Regions from separate parts of the Homo sapiens genome. Here region 2 is linked to region 1. Evidence: fine-mapped QTL for protein levels in blood plasma. Region 1 holds a variant in brackets. A gene starts in the other region. All regions are shown on their forward strands.

What was found. PIP is the chance, under the fine-mapping model, that this variant and not a neighbour inherited with it causes the effect. The UK Biobank Pharma Proteomics Project read protein levels with antibody pairs (Olink). The fine-mapping took linkage between variants from a reference panel, not from the people measured, so its PIPs are less certain.
Region 2: it holds the start of ITGA5, and the variant in region 1 is fine-mapped to the plasma level of the ITGA5 protein (UK Biobank, PIP above 0.99).

Annotation. Positions count from the first base shown.
Region 1 is chr2:215,418,121-215,421,024 of GRCh38, forward strand. It overlaps FN1 (fibronectin 1), which reads right to left. Exons shown (of 46, transcript NM_212482.4): 11 at 2,553-2,681; 12 at 1,122-1,265. Among named protein-coding and RNA genes, the nearest start is that of FN1-DT, 16 kb to the right of the region's middle. RefSeq lists a silencer at 2,426-2,720. The variant C/T (reference allele first, on the strand shown) is at 1,166.
Region 2 is chr12:54,417,989-54,420,892 of GRCh38, forward strand. It overlaps ITGA5 (integrin subunit alpha 5), which reads right to left and starts at 1,278. Exons shown (of 30, transcript NM_002205.5): 1 at 993-1,278. The coding sequence starts at 1,210. All of the region lies in intron 2 of GPR84-AS1 (GPR84, ZNF385A, ITGA5 and GTSF1 antisense RNA 1), which reads left to right.

The DNA of each region.
Region 1 (2,904 bases):
AATTTAGGAGGTTGGTCAATCTGTGCTATAAGCCTTCAAAAGTGAAGTCACCTTCCCCAGCACTGACAGTGTCTGAGGGTTGGGAAAAGCAGAATCTTCCAAGTTCCTAGAAAAGGTGCATCTGGGTGTTTAGTATTTAGGATGGAACATTAAAGGTAATCAGCTACAATCTTCCCATATTACAGATGAGGAAATGGAGGAATGAGGCTTGGCTAACACTACCTTTGGCCAAGTTGTTCCCATAGCTTGTTCTCTGTCACAGTGAATCTTTTATCACAGAGTTAATCTTAATTTCTGTCGCATGCAGATTCTGACACCCTGAAACTCTTTTGTTTCTGAATGTAGGCCATATTTTCAGTCAAACGTTAGTGAAGACTTTGGAGACTTTGCACCTCAGCAGTTGCTCAAATAACTGATGCCTTTTAATTAGCCTTTCATGTTTTATTAACATGTTTTATTATAATCACTCAGTGAATATTTAAATGCAATTTTCCCCCCAAATGAACTAATTACACCTACAGCTAGGCATGATGTCTTTGTGACCTGGAAAAACCCAGCAATAAACATTTGAGAGTGTTTGAACTGTGTGGGCAGAGAGTTGACCAAGTTACTCAACCCTTGGCCCAACATACTGTGTTCCTGGTGGCAACTGATCAAACAAATGAAAAGTTTGATGCAAAGGGAGCTTAGATGACATGTTGAATGAACACGTACCTTATGCTGCATTTCATGCCATCTCTCTATGCAGCTTCTCTGTTAAGAATCATAATATAAAGCCCCAAACCTTTACTCCCAGCATAACTCACTTGGTGGTTTTTATTTCCATGTATGGATATAAGATGAAATTAGCCAGAGTGTCTTAACCTAACAGAATATTTTACAGAGTTAAGAAGTAAAATTATAAACAGGCACATTTTCATAGCCTTCTCTACCTTTTACTTGATAGAGGAAGAGAGAAAAATTATTTTAATCAAAAATTCAATTGATTATTAGATAATAACAAGAGAAAAGGGTGGGAAAGAGGGGAGACCCCCAACTTAGGCATGAGAGCATTAATAATCACTGCCCTGTTGTTATAACCCAATTGGCAGTTCTCAACTTGCAGTAATAGAGCTACTTACTTGGATAGGTCTGTAAAGGTTGGCAATGCCACTCCCCAATGCCA[C/T]GGCCATAGCAGTAGCACTGGTATCTGACACCATGCACATACTTCTCCCATGAATCTCCAATTTGATAAAACGTCCCAGTCTCTGAATCCTGGCATTGGTCTAAAATACATGGAAGGAAAAGATAAACAGCCTTGAAGACTTATAACTACGAATTTAATTTCAGGGTGCTAGAGCATACATTTAGCTTAAATAGAAATTTGCAATTGTTCTTACAAATATATGCAGTTAAAAAAATATTTTGTTCACATTCTTTACCTTACAGGACAGTTTGTAGTAAAAAAAAAACCAAAGTACCTATTAGGAGGAATATTTAGTTTTCTAAAAGGTAATATTTCTAAATAAAAATGTAAAGATTTAGATTTCAGTGTATATTGATAATCTACACATTAATTTTAAATATTAGTTATTATTTTTACCCATATTAATATAACTGGCTTAACATTTAAATAGCAAGAAAAAAATCTGCAATAATTTCATTTTCCTTACTTCTTCAAAATTTAAAGAAACTGTTTGACATTTAAATGAATGAACTAGACTTTACGAGTATACCTGCTGAGCAGCTTCTAAGAAAACCTCTCAGGCTTCTCTCTCAGTTCTGGTAATCTCACGTCAAACAAACGGATGTTATCAGTTTGTTTTCTCAGTGAGCAACCTGTCTCTTTTGGTAAAGAAATAGTAATGGATCACCTTAAACTTTGTAGTGCTGGTAACACAGCTCTTTTAAGGCTCAGCCTTCACTATTTGCTTAGTTCTATTTTGAAGGGCGGCCAAAAAAAAACCTAGAGTGTTTTGGTGGGTGATATTTACACCCTTTGCTCATGCTGTTACACAGCTGGTAAGGAAGTGAGTTTGAGACCAGCCTGACCCACATGGAGAAACCCCATCTCTACTAAAGATACAAAATTAGCTGGGCCTGGTGGCGCATGCCTGTAATCCCAGCTACTCAGGAGGCTGAGGCAGCAGAATTGCTTGAACCCAGGAAGCAGAGGTTGCAGTGAGCCGAGATTGTGCCATACACTCCAGCCTGGGCAACAAGAGCGAAACTCTCTCTCAAAAAAACAAAAACAAAAACAAAAACAAACAAAAAAAAAAGGAAAGAATACTTTTAATAGCATGGATTATCTTTATGATTCTAAACCCAAGAATAAATTCCATTCAATTAAAATAAGCCTAAATTTGTCACCAAATTCAGCAAAAACCAGACGACTACCAATATCGAGATATTTTGGTCCAGTATTAGAGAGAAGACTTTGCAAAGTTCTTTGCAAGCAACTGATCAAAGTCTGGAGCCAACTTCAGTCATGTGATTTCACATAGCTTTTCTTATCTGAAACTTGCTAACCATTCCCCCTGTGCAAACTCATCTAGGGAAATAGGGCTACTCACCGACGGGATCACACTTCCACCTGCCCCGACCCTGACCGAAGCATGTACAGTTCAGCATGTGCCCCTCTTCATGACGCTTGTGGAATGTGTCGTTCACATTGTAAGTGATGTCATCAACAATGCACTGATCTGTTTAGGAAACAGGTGGGTGAGTGAGAAACTTTTTAAAGTTCCATTGATGAAAGAAAAAAGGTATGCTTCTCAAAGCATACAACTACTTCCACTTAATTATCAACACCTTCCACTAAAATAACTTTTCTACAAGCATAGAATAACATTTTTTTCAAAGTTTGGTCAGTAATACAATTTTTGCCAAAAAAATTTTTTTCTTCCCAAAATGTGTAACTTTTGC
Region 2 (2,904 bases), not on the chromosome of region 1:
ATCACTGTGCTGAGTTGGGAATAAGGATCCTCCTTTGAGATTTCCAGGGTCCTGAGTCCTTCATTCTGACGTTCTTGGCCCCACGGAGCCCCCGTCTCCCCAGCTTCCGACCCCAGCCCCAGAAGTCCCGGTCTCAGCACAGCTCCAGCCGACCAGCTACAGGAAACCAGCTTTTCTCTTCCTCCCAAGAGCCAGAGGAAGAGGGAAACCGCCCACCCCCCTTCACGCGCGCACACACCCCTCCCGACACATCCCAGCACCCGCCCTTGGCTGAGTTCGCCCCCAGCCCCAGGGCCCCAGTGCCAGGGTCCCCGCACTCGCCCCCAGTTCTCGGATCCCCTCGCCTGAACAGAGATTGGGGGCGGAGGGAGGAGTAGGAGACAGAGGAGAAAGGAGAGGGAGCCGCCGTCCTCTCTCGGGTCTTTCCCCGGTCTGAGTTGAGGGGGGAGGGGAGGATGAGGCTGGCCCCCATTTAACCTTCCGACCCCCTCAGTCTTTGACTTTCCTCCTACTACACGTAGCTCATTCGGCTTCTACCCGTTCTCTCGCCGCACAATGGCCCCTACGGATCCCGAGGTCTCCTGGAGCCCCCAAAAGCCCTTCCCGGCCTCTGCGCCCCCTCTGCGCCCCCACCCGCCCCAGGTCCCAGCAGCCCACAGACTTCAGCCAGAGACCCTCAGCTCTCCATTCACGCGCTCTCCTCTCCCTTGGCCCGGAGACCCCTGCCCAGACTTCTCCAGCTCCGTGTCCTCTCCCCACCGGACACATGTCTCCCCACTGATCTCAAACGCCAGGGCCCCTCCTCACCCGCCACGGTGCCCTCCCTACTCCAGCGCGGGCCCCCAACTCTAGCCAGGGCCCCCAACTGCAGCTCTATTCCTTACAAACTCCACCCTCAAACTTAAGCCCTGGTCCCCTCCAGACCCCAGCCGCGCCCCCAGTCTCCAGGCGGCTCCCCCACCCCCATCCCGTCTCCAGCCCTCCTCACTCACCCGTCTGTTCCCGGCCGGTAAAACTCCACTGAGAATCCGAAGAAGGAGCCCGGGGGCCCCGAGAGTACTGCTGGGGCCTCCGCGTCTAAGTTGAAGCCCCCGACCCTGGGTGGCGGCGGCAGCAGCAGCAACAGCAGCGGCAGCAGCGGGGGTCGGCGCCGGGGGCCCCAGCGCAGCTGCACGGCGTGGAGAGGGGACTCTGGCGTCCGGCTCCCCATAGCGCCCGCTCTTCCCTGTCCTGGGGCCACCGACCCGGAGCCGCTTCCTAAACCTCCCAGAGGCGAATGACTCAACGCGGGGAGGAGTTTGCCAAACTCCCGGCTGAGCCCTCCCCCCGCCTGCCGAGGGGGCTGGCGGGGGGGCATTCCTGGGTCCCTGGAACTCTGAGCCCGCGTCCCCCACCCCTAAGGGGCGTGGGGGGGGGGCGCACCCCTCCAACCCCCTTTCCCCAGCCCCAGCTGGAAGCCGGTTGTCTGGACTGGGTTAGACTGGGCGGGTTTGGGTTCTTCCCCCTCCTCTCTGCTTCCCCCTCCTTCCTCCCCATTCCTTTCCAGATGTACAACGTAAACGCTCGGAAAACGAGTCGGAAAAGGGAGCGGAGAATTTCCTAATGAGGAAAGGAATCACCTCTGGTGGGCGGAGGAAGCCTGTATATGTGTGTGGGGTCTCCCTCAGTGCTTTAGGGAGGAGACTTTGGGGTCTAAAGAGACAGGAGACTCCTCTGGCGTCCGGCCAACTGGGATTCCCCCTTGCCTTCCGGGGCCGCCGGGTGCCTGGGTTCTGGCCAGCTGGATTTGGGACACAACAGTTGAGGTACAGAGACAGCGTTCGCAGTCAGCTTGCTAGAGGACCTACACGGGCTCCTCAAGTTCCGCTGCTTCCTCCTCCAAGCTTGCTAGTATTGAAAACCCAGGAGTTTGGGGTCATTCATCAGGAGGATTCTGCTCCAGTTTGCCCCCTTCTTGGTCCTAGGGTATGTAAACCTCTGCTGAGCCCCTTCCTTGGATCTGACAGTTGACCAAAAGCCTGCGAGTGGCTGGCCCCTCAGTACCTGCTTGATTAAACTGGCCGGGTTCCTACAAACCTGGAGAATTGTGAGAGGTGGTGGTGGTGGTGGAAAGTCTTGCAAAGGGACCCAACCTTCAGCTCCTAATGGCTGTAAACGCTGGGAGCTCTGGCCAGGCACGGTGGCTCACACCTGTAATCCCAGCACTTTGGGATGCCGAGGTGAGCAGATCACCTGAGGCCAGGAGTTCAAGACCAGCCTGGCCAACATGGCAAAACCCATCTCCACTAAAAATACAAAAATTATCCAGATGTGGTGGTCCGCACCTGTAATCCCAGCTACTCGGGAAGCTGAGGCAGGATAATTACTTGAACCCAGGAGGCAGAGACTGCAATGAGCCGCGATTGCACCACTGCACTCTAGCCTGGGTGACAGAGCAAGACTGTATCCAAAAAAAAAAAAAAAAAAAAAATCCAAAAACCAAAAACCAAAAAAACAATGGGAGCGGAAAGCCAGGACCCCATTCTTCCCAGATTCCCCTGTGGAAGTAGAGGAAGGGACTCTAGAAAGGGAAGGCAGTGACCCCCTGCCCACCTCTTCCCCAAGCTCAGGCTCTGTGTGATGAGATCACTTTTCAGGATTCTAGCCTTTATCTTAGTCTGGGGGAGGGGACTACAAGTCCTTTCAGTCTCTTTCCTCCAGGACTCCTCACTTTCCAGAATAATACCCTGTCAATAATATCCTGTCAACCCTGTCCCTTCTGTTCTCCAGTCCCCTGCCCCACTTCGGGCTGAAAGGCTCAGAATAAGAGTGCCCAGAGTCAATGTTTTTTTCCTGCCATGACTCTCCCCCTCACTCTGCTACTCCACTTCCTGTCCCAAATCACCCATCTGCTTTTTTAAAAGC